Linked DNA regions of Homo sapiens. The protein of the gene in region 1 purifies or fractionates together with the protein of each later gene. This does not show direct contact. Each region holds a gene or a part of one and is shown on either strand. Other genes may lie near its edges. The genes, in order: ATP8B4 and ELAVL4.

Region 1 (3,824 bases):
TTATGTGCCCAGCACTGTTCTAAATGCCTTATATGAGTATGTACAATGTATCAATAAAAATATAAAAAAATTTTAAAAATAAACCACAAAAATGCTCTCCATGAATTAATTTATTCAATTGTCCCAACAATCCTAATAAGGTAGGAACTATTATATTTATACCCATTAACAGATAATGAAACTAAGACACAGAAAGGTTGAGTAACTTGCCCAGGTTCGCATAGTTTGAAGTAGAATAGCTGGGATTCAGACCTAGGAAGTGTGACTGCATAGCCCATTCACTTGTTCACTATACAGTACTGGCTCCGGATGAGTTTCTAAATTGCTTGGCACATGACAGTTGTTGTGAACATCGTCCTCAGCCTCCTCATTATCATTCATTTTCTCTGTCCACCTCCATTGCTGGAGAGGACCACCTAATATTATATTTAGCACCACAACAAATCTGTGCTTTCCTGACTCAATGCTAACTCTTAGTGCTGTGTCAATGTCACTCTCATTCATATTTAGTGCCTTTTTCCATTTTCACAATAGATATTCTAAACCTTGGCTGTTTCCTCAAGTTCTCAACACTGCTACAATCTTCTTTACTCTTGAAAGCTAAATTCATCTCCTATTTCTCTAAGAAAATAAAGGCCCTCAGGAATGCACACCATTAAGTCTTTTCCCCATCCTCCCTCTTCATCCCTAAGCTGTATCTTTAATAATTTACTCTCCTGCATCAGAAAACAATTGCTCTTTTTCCTTTTCAAAGCTGAAGGTTTTTCCAGTCCCATTCCTTATCCCTCCTTGCTTGCTCACTTCTTGCTTTTGCCTTCAATTTCTCAATTACTGGCTCCTTCCTTCAGCCCACAACTATATTATCCTCCTGTTTCCTTAAAAATATTCTTCATATGCTGGTGTCCACTGACTTTGCCACTATATTTTTCTGCTTTCCATCCCAGATTAGTTTCTCAGGTCAGTTTTTGCTTCTTGCCTTTCTTACTCTTTTCATCCCATTAGGGTTAAGTTTCTTCTTCCTCTACTCAAGAAGAAATGCTTTCTCAGAGGTTTCCATTAACCTTGTAACTTCCCAGTCCAATGGCTTTTCCTTATTAATCTGTTCATCTATCTATTTTTTTAAACTTAGTAGTATTTGAGACTGTTGGCCCTGTTTTCTTGACACTCCTGTTTTGGTCTCTGTAAACTTTCTGGCTCCTGTTTCTCTTCTTGTCCCATTGTTTTCTTTCTCAAGCTCCTTTGCTGACTATTCTCCTTCATCCCATTCTTCAATATTGATGTCCTTTTCTCTTTTTAGCTCCTGTGTTCTTCTTGGATGATCTTGACCACATACATGGTGGTAGCTATTGCTTATATTCTGTGACCTTCTTATACAGCTGTTTAGCTTCGATCTCTTTCTAGAGTCCAAACACACATTTTCAGCTTCCGTTATGTCCTGTCACTGGATTGTTACCTAAAGTTTTATGTCAAATATGGAACTTTCTTTCTCACAACTATAGTTCTTTCTATAATCTGTATTAAAATTCACAGTTACCTCTCTCATTGTATGCTTGTCCATGAACTTTATAATGAATTCTTTTATTGAATCGTTGCAACTGCATGTAACATGCATGTCCCATTTAAGACAAGAGGAGACTAAATGCAAAGATTTTAAGTAACTTGCCAAAGATTGTCACACAGCTGTAACACAACTTGTGGCGCAGTTGGGTAAGAGGCAGATCAGATATGTGAACCCAGGTTTTCCAAAATCTGGTCTTTTAAGGCCTATTATAGCTCACTCACTTTTTTCCATAGCTTTTGTGCCCCTTGGCTGATGGTTCTCAAACTTTACCTCCCATCAGCGTCACCAGGAGGGCTTGTTACAATACAGATTGCTGGGCCTCAGCCTCTAGTCTTATTTAGCTGGTCTGAGGTGGGGCCCACCAATTTGCATTTCTAACAAGCTTGTGGGTGATGCTGATGCCACTGGTCAGGGAATCACAGTTTGGGGACCACTTCTCTAGACTAATAGATCCTCAAATACTATCCATTATTTTCCCCAGAGATGTTTGAGACATTTCTCTAATCCATCTCCTTCTCTTCCAGTCTCAGGCCTTAACATCTCTAGAATATTCTATTGTCACCCTGTTTGTAAGTCTCTCCTCAGAGGCATCAGAATAATATTTATTAAAATGGCCTCATAAACCCCTTTTTAATCATGAAAGCTTTTTGTCCTTTTTTCCTAATTCCCAGTACCCTGCCTTAGTTAAGTTTCTTGTCACTGCTTGCTTGTATTATTGTAATATCTTCAAAATTATTCGCTTTTAAAATAATCCTCTATGCTGTCACCAGGATATTCTTTCTAAAACATAGGCCTGATTTTACTACCCCCTACTTAAAAAGCATAGGTGGCTTCCCAAACCTTAAAAGAAAAAGTCATTAGTATGACGTGCAAAATTATTTGCAATCTGATCTCAATCTACTTTTCTTCTACTTTCCAAAACTTTGAGCTCAACTAGACCTCACCATCCCTGGATGCATTGTTGCTGTTATACCCTTTGGACATGCTGTTCTCCTGTCTTGAATACTCCTTTCCCCCACTTCTCTTCTTGGAAATGTTCCCTACTACTCATCTGGTAATGTCCAATTCAAATGTTACCCATTTTTCAATTCTTTTTCTATTCTCCAAATAACCACATTCTTCTGTGTTCCCCAGAATGCCTTGTTCATAACACCAGTGTGGTATTAATTCCATGACACTCACAACTATCCTAGTCATTAAACTGTGTGCTACCTCAGGCAAGTGCTGTACCTTAGTCTTCCTAAACTGCCCAAGGCAAAGCACAGAGCTTGGCACATGATAAGTTTTCTATAAATGTTTATGAAATACTACTCAACCCAGCACTTTGTAAATTATGAATATCCTACTCATGGTATTTAATCAATTTCTTACTATTTAAAAAGTGTTTATACGTAACAGTAGGGTTTTTGGTCTCTAACTACTAGAAACTAGCCTTGAAAGATGGCTCTCAGCAGGTAAAAACCAAATAACATCTGAGAATGTTTATTTTTATTTTTATGTTTTGACAACAGGGAAGTCATCACCAGTGCCACTGATGAGCACACATGCCGTTCTAGGTGTTGGCTTAATGTTGTATCAGCAGGAGCTATCTTCTATTTACAGCCTCAGGGAAGGTGTTATTGATGTTGGTTTGGCCCAGAGTTGGTTTCTTTTTGCTCTGAGGGTGTTGACAAAAACCTAAAATTGCTACACAGGGAGATGTTTGGCTTTTCCTCAGCATTGGTCACCATTACAGGCTGTGGAGAAATTGCAGCCTAACCACAAACATCAGATGTTTGCCTTAATGGATCCCATATGAGGAAAGGTAGTGCTCTACCACAGAATGCATGAAGGTTTGCTGGATTTATTTTTATTCTGCTTGGTTTTTAATCAGGAGGATTTTTAGAGGGACTCTACCAGGGCAGAAAAGTCTTTGCATGATAACAAGGCAGAAAACAATCCTGGTCTCATGATCGTCACATGGGTTGGTCTGTAGGAACAACACCCTGATGCAAAGGCTCAGGCATTGCTTCTGTTGCTGCTGATCCTCCCCTTTCTCCTCCTCCCTCTTCTGCTTCCTTGTTTTTGGGTGGCAGCCATTATTCACTAAATCATCAATGTATAATTTCAATACCAGTAGTACTTTCATTCTGAAGAAAGAGCCCTGATTTAAGTCAGAAGTATCTACATAAAAATTGATTTCTATAAAGGATTTTTTTCCAGAGGGAACAGAATATACTATATTAGTAAAAAATATAAATGACATTATATAGTTTTGGAAGGA
Region 2 (3,824 bases), on another chromosome or scaffold:
CTGAGCCTCTGCTCCTTACCTCCCCTCTGCAGATATAAACGACCCTGGTGATGATCCGGCAGCTGCACGTCTGAAGCCTTCCCTCTTGCTTTTGTTGTATATTTTGCAGAAAAGAGTGGTGGGAGGGGTGAGGTTAATGCATTGAGTGTGAGTAATTAGTCATTCAAACCATCGACATTTACGATGACAGGATTTGAGTGCCTACGTTATTGTGCACCGCTCTAATAGTTTATCCCTGAAATTTTCTGCCTGTATAATGTTTCTTAAAATATATCACAGAAACATAAAAGATTTAATGTAGTGCTTTGTACATCCATTAGAGTTCGAAGTCAACTGAACCTCCTCAATGATCTATCCTGGATGCTGACTGTAATTCTGTTCTTAATTGCTATTCAAATGAGGAAAGGAGGGCAAGTCAGGGGCTTGGAACCTGGTCAGCTGCAAAGTTGGCTGTGAGACCCACACAGAATGTTTCATTAAAGTACATATGCACACTTGAGTAACTGATATATTTATTTGCAATGAAAATTGTGCTGTTAGAATATCAAAGGCGTTAGCCTGAGGAAGCAAGTGTTCTGATTTTGCCCAGCCAGCCTCTGTACTTACTGGAGGATGTGCTTTCTACCAACACACATCTTTTCTACTCCTGTTCTGTCCCTCTGTTTCCCAAGCAGAGAGAACAGGTGTCCTGTCTTTGAGGTCTATCATGTAACCTTAAAATGCTGTAGTTTCATATTCGTGCATTTAATATCTTTACATCTTGGCAACTTCTCTTATTTTCCAGGTAATGTTTTAAAATCCTCTTGTTTCATTCACATGTCAGATTTGATTCTGATGTTTTACATTTCTGATTTTTTTTTTCAGCCTGTGTTGCATCCTAAGATGCATCATTAAGACCTGTGAGGGGTCTTATTATAGGATGTATATTAACACATTTGCAAATGTTTCTCAGCTTTCAGACAGCACACTTTTATTGAGAAAACTCTCTTTGTATGTGTCCATTTGTGTGTTTTCATCAGTTCCTTCTGGATACACAAAAGAATAACTGTGTAGTGTAGATGCAGAGCAAAGAGAGCTCCATCTACATTGGATGAGAATGACTTGACCTAATTTATAGATGTGGTCAGCTAAAGTAGCTCAGTAGTGAGCATTGTATCTCATGGCTCCTTTTAGAAGCTAGTTGGGACCAGTTGGGCTGTCTAATCTACAGACAGGACTCACCTCCTGGAGTCAACATAGATTAGGAAATCCACATAGAATGCAAGGAAGGCCACAAAGCTGATGCGGGGACTGAAATTACTTTGCTGCAGCCTTGTTACTTCACAGGCCTTCCTGGAGGAGGTGGACCTGTGAGATGTTCACATGGACAAGTGCTGGCTTTCACCACGTGTCTGAAAACGAAAGATGAACCTGACTATCAGGTGACCTTTATGAGTTTTGGTCCCACAGAATCTCAACATGAAATTCTTCCACATACTCCATCACTAGCACCAAATAAGCTGCCTTGGTGTGGGATATTTTCTAGGTGTTTGTTGGGGAGCTGAAAGAAGGGTAACCTGAAAAAGGTAGAAAACAGAGAAGAGTTTCTAAAGATTGTGGGCCTGGGGGGTTTTTGCCATTAAATCGAATGTAGTAGTCCGGCCTCCTGAATGGATAAATTCTGATTTTCATGTTCATTATCGAGTTGGCAGTGCTTCTTATGTTTGTTGCCTGGACACCTGACTCAGTGAAGCAGTGAGACAACACAGCAAATGGAGGCACTGCAAAGACCCAGAAGGCCCCACAGCTTGGCAGAGCTGAAACCTGCCTCCTAGCCAGGAGTTGTGCTGATGCTCTGTAATGCCATCCCTTTAGCATGCCTCCTTCCCTGGGGACCATCTCCCTGATTCTTTTCCTGGACCCTTGCCTCGAAGGCAAAGTGGCTGAATAGGCTTTGCTGGGTACAACTTCTATCAGTCCTGAGGGGAGCTTGATTTAAGATTCTTCTCAGAAGCTTTTTGCTTTCTCCTTGCTGTCTGGACCAGCCTTCTAGAATCCTAAAGTTGACCTGAAGCCAAGAAGAAAATTCTGGTGATGGGAGAAGTGGAGCCACTTAAATTACTTACATGATGGTAAAGAATCTTAGATGCTCCCCATCTTTCTTAGTCTGCTTTATTTCCTTGGCTCCTCTTGAGCCATGTTTTCCTTTTTGTTTCATTTATCATTTGTGACCATCAGAAGATGAAAGAATTAGAATAACACTCACCTACGTGGGGCATGATGAGGAATAATAGTTATGATGCCTCTGGGCCCTTTGTATTTTAGACATTTAATGTACATTATCTCTCATCCTGAAGATAACCCTGCGTGGCAAGCTTTTTATTCCAGTTTTGCTGAAGAGGAAGCTGAGGCTCAGAGTATTGAAGTAACCTGCCTCAGATCACACAGCTAATAAGTGGTAAAACTAAGTTTTTTGTTTTTTTGTTTTTTGAGACGGAGTTTCACTCCTGTTGCCCAGGCTAGAGTGCAGTGGTGCAATCTTGGCTCACTGTACCCTCTACCTCCCAGGTTCAAGTGATTCTCCTGCCTCAGCCTCCCGAGTAGCTGGGATTACAGGTGTGCACCACCACACACACACAGCTAATTTTGTATTTTCAATAGAGACTGGGTTTCTCCATGTTGGTCAGGCTGGTCTTGAACTCCTGACCTCAGGTGATCTGCCCACCTCGGCCTCCCAAAGTGTTGGGATTACAGGTGTGAGCCACCGCACCTGGCCTAGAACTCAGATTTTAAATCACCTGTTGTCTTGACTCAAACACTCATTCCATTTTTACTATACCACTCTGCTTCAGATGAGAAAATAAACAAAAACAAAAACAAAAAATAGTCTCTGAACATTGATGAGGATGTGGAGCAACTGGAACTTTCATACTCTGCTGGTGGGAATATAAATGGATACAGCCACTTTGAAATACTGTTGGCAGTATCTACTGAAGCTAAATATACATACACCCTATGATCCCAAAAACAGAATCCTAGGACTATCCCCAATAGAAATATGTACATTTTTGTACCAAAATGTTGTACATAACGCTCATAGCAGCATTATCTATAGTAGTTCAAAATTAGAAACAATCCAAATGTTCATCAACAGATAAATAAAATGTAATATTTCCACACAATGGAAATTGCTATAGCAGTGGGAAGAACAATGCATTGTTACATGTAACAGAGCAGATGACACTCCATACATGTGTGAAAAGGCACAAAAGAGTATGTGTTGTATGAGTCCATGTATATAAAGGTAAAAAAATAGGTAAAACAAATCTGTGGACTAGAATTCAGAATAGTGGTTACCTTTGAGGGGTGAGGTAAATGACAGGGATGGAGAACCTGAGAAAGGCATTTGGGGTGCCAGTCATGTTCTGTATTGTGATCTGAAAGGTAATTACCCAGTTGTGAATTGTGTTCACTTTGTAAACATTCTTTGTGTTGTACCCTTAAGATTTATACACTTTATTACATGTATGTTATAGTAAATGAAAATGCTTCCCCCCTAAATCCTCTGAGCAGGCAAATGGTAATAATAATGGAAGCTACTAGTTATCAGATGTCTGCTATGCCTTGGTTTCCTCATCTATAAGACATAGAGAATATTAGAATATGCTTCATTGCCTTCTTGTGAGGAGACAGTGAGAGAAGTCACATTGGATGATTGGCAGAGTAACTAATAAACATCAGTGATTGTGGTTATGTGCCCACCACTGTTCTGGTGCTTTACATAAGTCATATCACTGGATCGGTTCTTACCGCTTTGCCATACGGTGGCATTGTTCCCATTTTTC

Evidence for each region.
Region 2: the proteins of ATP8B4 (region 1) and ELAVL4 purify together in Homo sapiens (affinity purification with mass spectrometry; one large-scale study listed by BioGRID and IntAct). This does not show direct contact.

The regions. Positions count from the first base shown.
Region 1 is NC_000015.10:49,927,105-49,930,928, reverse strand, and holds part of ATP8B4 (probable phospholipid-transporting ATPase IM), read left to right. Parts: intron 1-3,824. UniProt on the Homo sapiens protein: Component of a P4-ATPase flippase complex which catalyzes the hydrolysis of ATP coupled to the transport of aminophospholipids from the outer to the inner leaflet of various membranes and ensures the maintenance of asymmetric distribution of phospholipids.
Region 2 is NC_000001.11:50,139,748-50,143,571, forward strand, and holds part of ELAVL4 (ELAV-like protein 4), read left to right. Parts: intron 1-2,024; exon of another isoform or gene 2,025-2,105; coding exon of another isoform or gene 2,106-2,111; intron 2,112-3,824. UniProt on the Homo sapiens protein: RNA-binding protein that is involved in the post-transcriptional regulation of mRNAs. Plays a role in the regulation of mRNA stability, alternative splicing and translation.